2 linked regions of the Homo sapiens genome follow. The protein of the gene in region 1 purifies or fractionates together with the protein of each later gene. This does not show direct contact. Each region holds a gene or a part of one and is shown on either strand. Other genes may lie near its edges.

Region 1 (3,500 bases):
TTTAAGAGATGGTGTCTCACTCTGTCACCTAGGCTGGAGTGCAGTGGCGTGATCAGGACGCACTGAAACCACAACTTCCCAAGTAGCTGGGACCCAGGTGCACAACACCAAGCCCAGCTAGATTTGATTTTTTTTTTTTTTTTTTTTTTTTTTAAGAGATAAGGTCTGCCTATGTTGCCCAGGCTGGTCTCAAACTCCTGGGCTCAAGCAGTCCTCCTGCCTTGGCCCCACAAAGTTATGGGATTACACACCTGAGCACTGTGCCTGGCAAGACCTGTCTTAATAGATTAGAGAACCACTGATAGATGGTCAGCTTTCTGTAGCAGTGAGAACCCTACATTTCAAATGTGGATAGCACCTTTGCGGGGAAACATCACTTGGCACATCTGCATTCTTTTTTGACACAGGGTCTCACTCTGTTGCCCAGGCTAGAGTGCATGGCACGATCTTAGCTCACTGCAACCTCCACCTCCCAAGTTCAAGCGATTCTTCTGCCTCAGCCTCCTGAGCAGCTGGGATCACAGACATGCGCTACCATGCCCAGCTAATTTTTTGTATTTTTTGTTTGTTTGTTTTTGTTTTTAAGTAGAGACGGGCTTTCACCACGTTGGCCAGGCAGGTCTCGAACTCCTGACCTCAGGTGATCCACCCACATCTGCGTTCCAATATCTTTCTCAACATAATGATAGCCGTAATTAATATTTTCCAGTACATTTTTATGCCTTTACACACGAGAGTGGTAGACAGACACAAACCCAGATCTGTCTGACTCCAAAGCCCGTTTGTCATCATTCCTTTTACGGTATCCTATAGTGGTATCCTTTACAGAAGACAGCTTTTACCCAACAAAGACTTAACTTCCCAGGATGCCAGAGGACAAAGCGGGATTGCTTTTAAGAGGAAGTTATCAAGACCTTATTTTATAAATGAGATTAGATAGGGAAAGGCAATTTAATCTTTATTAAAAACTGAAAAGGCCAGCATAGGAAGAGGTCCTCGGTGGTCTTTTTCAGGGAAATACTTCAGTTGCTTTTATTAGAAACAGATAGTACCTAAGGTTTTGAGGTAGGTACAGCTTAAGGCATGCTAATGGTCATGGGTCCTTCCATAGTCATTTTTGTATTTTGGTTTACATTTGAGCAATAGGCAGCCCTTCACTGCTGCTGGACTCATTCCTGCCACTATTACAGGTGACAGAGGAGACAGGAGGTATGTCTTTTCTATTTTTATACATGCTTTATATTTAACACAAGCTCTTGGGTATCTTAGATAAACAGAAGTTGCCTAGCACTCCTTTTAGTGCATTGAACCCTTTAACATTTAAGCAAAATAATAAACAGTCTTTTGAGGTTCCTTAACAATGAAACGTGTTCGAGTGGCAGCAGCGGAATCCATGCCTCTTCTCCTGGAGTGTGCAAGAGTCCGTGGTCCTGAGTATCTCACACAGATGTGGCATTTTATGTGTGATGCTCTAATTAAGGCCATTGGTACAGAACCAGATTCAGACGTCCTCTCAGAAATAATGCATTCTTTTGCAAAGGTGAATATTTTTCTCTTAAAAAATATGTATAAGGTTGTATGTTCATTTATTAGTCTTGCTAAAAGTAAAAAAAAAAAATTTGAGACAGGGTATTGCTCTGTCACCCAGGCTGGAGTGCAGTGGCGCAATCGCAGCTCACTGCAACCTCCACCTCCTGGGTTCAAGCAATTCTCATGCCTCATCCTTCCAAGTAGTTGGGATTATAGGCATGCACCACCACACCTGGCTACTTTTTGTATTTTTAGTAGATGTTCCTCAGGTCTCAAACTCCTGGCCTCAGGTGATCCACCTCGGCCTCCCAGAGTGCTGGGATTGCAGATGTAAGGCAGCTAAATAAATTTTTATATGCTATAGTGTATGATTTGTTAAAAAATAAAAATGTTAAATTTTTTGTTTTAATATTTTGGTATTATTATGTTTGTTTTAAAGAGGGTAAATTTGCCTTGGAAGGGCAGTATAGGTAGAGGGAATGATATGGGCAGCAGCATGGAAGCATGCATTCTTTGGAAAAAGAGAAGAAATTCTGAATACTCTAGTATTTTAGTCTTGCACTTAATAATCCAACTATAGAAGCTTGGGTATCATCTCCAGTTTCTGTTCTTTACACTTTCCTCAATTCTTCTCTTTTTTTTTTTTTTCATTGCCCCATCTCTTTTTCATGCCATTGAAATAGCCTCACTTGGGCTACTCCAGATGTCTCCTTTCTTTTCCTCTCAGTTCATTCTCCTTTCCTCAAGCACTGCCTTCCTCTTCATTGAGTCACTTCCTTTCTCATACAGTGTCACTCCCATTTTGCACAACTCTAGTTTGCTCCAATCTTGATTGAAGATTTACAGTTTCTCAGCATCTTTATATGTCCTTATTTACACTCCTGTAATTCAGAATTGCTTCTGATTTTCCAAAGACAGCATGCTTCCATACCTTTGCCTATATTTTATTTCTTCTACCTCTAATGCCCTTCCTTCAGTGTTCTTGTATGTTGTGTGTACGGAGTATGGATATAGCAATTGTGTTCCTTAGGAGCTGGTTGTGTGTGTGTGTGTGTGTGTGTGTGTGTTTTCCATCTTTGAATCCTCAGTACCAAGCATGATGCCTGGCACCTAGGTATGCTCAGTAGTGTTCAAAAGAAAATATTTTTTTCTAACTCCAATCTCTAAAATGCTGTCATTCTAACAAATACAAGCTAAGCATATGTAAATAATCTTCCAGGATACTGAACTGTGTTCATTTTTCCATATGATTCTTAGTGGAGTTTAACTTTGGACTCCAAACACCCCAAATCTTATGGATTGCTTTCTTTCCTCAACCTCATTAGTGCATTGAAGTAATGGGAGATGGATGCCTTAATAATGAACACTTTGAAGAACTGGGAGGTATATTGAAAGCAAAGCTTGAAGAACATTTTAAAAATCAAGAATTACGACAAGGTAAGTTTTCCATGCTTTTATTTCTGAATATAATCCTTGACCATCTTGGCAATCATTTAAAACATTTATTTGGGTGTGTTTTAGTTAAAAGACAAGATGAAGACTATGATGAACAGGTCGAAGAGTCACTACAAGATGAGGTAAGTTATTCCCTTTGGAACTTACTTACGTGACCACTTGCATCTGAAAGACTTGTAAATGCCTCAATTTCTGATTTATGTGACTTGTCATTCTGATGTAATTATCAGTCTTTAGCAGAGGAGTCAGATATATTTCCTCTCTTAATTTATGAATAAGTAATTTGAAATTAAACTGATATGTCTTTCGGTGCTATGTGCATTTTGTTGTAATACCTCACTCAACAAAACACCTTGAGGTTTACCTAGTTCATTTACATACTGCTCACAACAACCATTTGTATTTTGTGGTGCTTTCACTATATTAAAGATGAGTAACCTAAAATTCCAGTGTTAAATGATTGCCTAGAGTCACACTGTTGACGGTCTGGGGCCTTTTTCACCATGTTACTTAGT
Region 2 (3,303 bases), on another chromosome or scaffold:
AATCCTGAGTTGTTTGTAGATAGTAGCAAAGACAAGTGAAATTTTTGGCTACATATTTCAAAATTTTACTTTCTATCAATCATTACTACTAAACATCTATTTTATATATTCAGCTATCATAACCAAGACTAAAGTATATCAGATTATTATTGTTCTATGTGATTTTCTTTTTTACTTTGCTGAGTCAGTGAGTGGGATCCCAACTAAATTCTATGAAGAGATCAAATCTGAACTAAAAGTTCTTAATAGAGAAAAATGAATATGGATTTAATAGGTAAATTGGGAGTAGAAGATTGGCTTACCAAATTTAGAAGCTAAATTGCTTCTGATTTAATTTCTTACTATTTTATATAAATAAGAATTATCTTTAATAATCTTTTATTTTTGGCCATATCAATTTCCCATTACAGTGATTTGTACTTTTTTGTTTAAACTGAAAACATTAAAATTAGAATCAAGTTAACTCTAACTAGATTTTTGTTTGTATGCTCACAATTTTTACTACTTTTATCAAAGAAGTTTTTCCAGAGAGTTATTTTACCCTAAATTTTATAACATTTATTTTAAATATTACTATTTTTGTAATAAAATTGACATTTCTTATGAAAGGAATTGAGTCAGCATTATTATAAGTCCTCCATACTGATATTTGAATGTGTCTGGGTGCCTAGACAGACGTTGTATATTTACACCAATTGTACACAGCTGTCCAGTAAACTGTTCATAAGAAGACAGTGATGTCGTGAAATCCAAGTGCTTCCATTAGTAATATACTGTTTATGTAAATGATTGGTTAACCAGAATGAAAGAAGTTAGGGGAAATAACAGTAACACTTGTCAGGTGCTAGACTAGGATGTGTGACTTTAAAAACATATTAGTAATAGGAGGATAAGGGGTCTCTTTAAATTTGACTTTATGAGATGATTCTTCTTAAAATATCAGAATTTAGCTGTGTCAGAGGAATTTACCTGTGTCCACATAAGAAATTTTAAAAAATAATTTGGTTTACACAATTCAGGAAAATATTTTCCAGTTAACAGACATCTATTGTGTAGCTATTATTAAGCTAAATGCTATTTCTTGTCCTTCTAGAAATTTAAAAAAAAGAATAAATGCAGTTATGAAAGGGTATTTATGTGCTGGTTATAGTGGAGGTGGTTCTGTTAGATTATGACTTTCCATAATTCTTTAACCAGGCAACTATTGACGAGTTTCACTTTATTCAGCCACAAGAATGAGTAAGGCCAAACTACCTATTATATAACAGAAGCAAAGTAAGAAGTCAAAACACTGCATGTGTTAGATTTTGTTGAATGATTAAATATTTGTGTTTTTAAAAACAAAAGATAACATCAGTGAAATTTGTTCAGTAGTTTAAAAGGAAAATTTTCTTTTTAAAAATCAAAATAATGCTGATTCATGTATGATGTATTCACTGTATTTGCTTATAAACAGTAGTGAAATTGATTTTGATTAAGACGCAATGCACACACACATCATGTCTTGTGTACTATGTAATTAATAAAGCCCCTATAATTTAAGGTTTTTATTGTAAAAAACAAAAGATAGAATTTAATTTAAAAGACCAGAGTATTAGCTATTGTTCCAAAACTACTGCTGTTGTGATCGAGTATTAAAAATTGCATGCTAAAGCTGCAATCTTTTTAAATATATAAAGATAAAATGCATGACTGTGTGTGTCCCAAGTGACTTTTAATCAAAGTTTAGTTGTGCCCTTTATGAAACCACGAATTGAGTCATGTCATGCTAACTTTACGGAAAAGTAATTTGCTTTTATATTAGGGAATTCAATATATATGCCCATGCGTAACTCATTCAGAAATTCAAATTTGAAGTCCAGTGCTATTTGAATTTAAACATAAGTAACAGATATTTTTGTTTGTTTCCTGCAGCCCATTTGGAAGCCCTTTCCTAATCAAGACAGTGACTCGGTGGTACTAAGTGGCACAGACTCAGAACTGCATATACCTCGAGTATGTGAATTCTGTCAAGCAGTTTTCCCACCATCCATTACATCCAGGGGGGATTTCCTTCGGCATCTTAATTCACACTTCAATGGAGAGACTTAAGACACATTTGAAAACAGACATATCAAGTTCTATGTGATGATTTTGGGTTTTTAATACTATAAATACTTGATTGTAAACTAAATTCAAGATCATTTATAGGAAAATCTAGTTTCACAGCTATTTGAATTTTTTTCTGGATTTACTATATAACTCTTATTTTTTAAAAGATCATTCTGTTCTTTCAAGGAGAAATAAGCCTAAAAGAAGAAAAACAAAAAAAATTCTGTATAAAACTGTAATCCTTTGTATTCATGTTTACAGTGCTATTACTATAATTCAAAATTATGTATGTGACTTAGAGTTATATAATCATAATTTATGTTTATTTCAAATATCTAAGTTTATTGCTTGGATTTCTAGTGAGAGCTGTTGAATTTGGTGATGTCAAATGTTTCTAGGGTTTTTTTAGTTTGTTTTTATTGAAAAATTTAATTATTTATGCTATAGGTGATATTCTCTTTGAATAAACCTATAATAGAAAATAGCAGACAACATAAACATCTTTGTAAATATCAAACCTAATACATTTCTTGTCCAGTGATAAAACAACTGGTAGAATTATTTAAACACTTTAGATTTTTAAATAATATACATGGCTTTAATTTTTACTGTGTGTATAGCTACATGATGAAATTAATTAAATATTAAGAGGTACTTATGTTGTGATCATTTGTATGTCCTTTGTTCCTGAGTAAAAAAAAAAAAAAAAAAAGGGAAGGAAGGAATCACATTTTTAGGGAAGTTTATAAAATTCATGTTTTCATTTCAGTAACCTAATAGAATGGTGATGACCAGATTTGGTGGCATTTATTACAATTAGTGAATCACTTTGAATTTTAGAATTATTCTTCAAACTAAACTTTCTAAAGAAACATTTGTTTTTAACGGGAGAAAATCTAAAACCCTGCAAGGACTATCTATATTTGTTAACTTAGATTAGAAATGTTCATATTCTTGTTGAGAAATTTGTTATTCATTGTTAGCAGCCTGATTGATGGCCACTGAAGACATTTGAGAGAGTGGATACCAAATTCAGACGGCTGCAAAATTTGTTTAAAATGAGACTTCCCTTTCATTTTTATTCCCTATGATTCTCGCCTTATAGGTTTCTGTTTTCCCCTGATTCTTAAAAGTGTTTAAGGCATGGCTTCCATTTTATGAAGTAAGCATTGATTTGCAACTCTCAGAAATTTAAGCCTTCTTGAAGCAAGT

The links.
Region 2: the proteins of IPO5 (region 1) and TANK purify together in Homo sapiens (tandem affinity purification; one large-scale study listed by IntAct). This does not show direct contact.

What each region holds. Positions count from the first base shown.
Region 1 is NC_000013.11:98,012,675-98,016,174, forward strand, and holds part of IPO5 (importin-5), read left to right. Parts: intron 1-1,367; coding exon 1,368-1,540; intron 1,541-2,855; coding exon 2,856-2,967; intron 2,968-3,051; coding exon 3,052-3,107; intron 3,108-3,500. UniProt on the Homo sapiens protein: Functions in nuclear protein import as nuclear transport receptor. Serves as receptor for nuclear localization signals (NLS) in cargo substrates.
Region 2 is NC_000002.12:161,233,428-161,236,730, forward strand, and holds the end of TANK (TRAF family member-associated NF-kappa-B activator), read left to right. Parts: intron 1-1,914; coding exon 1,915-2,091; 3' UTR 2,092-2,803; downstream 2,804-3,303.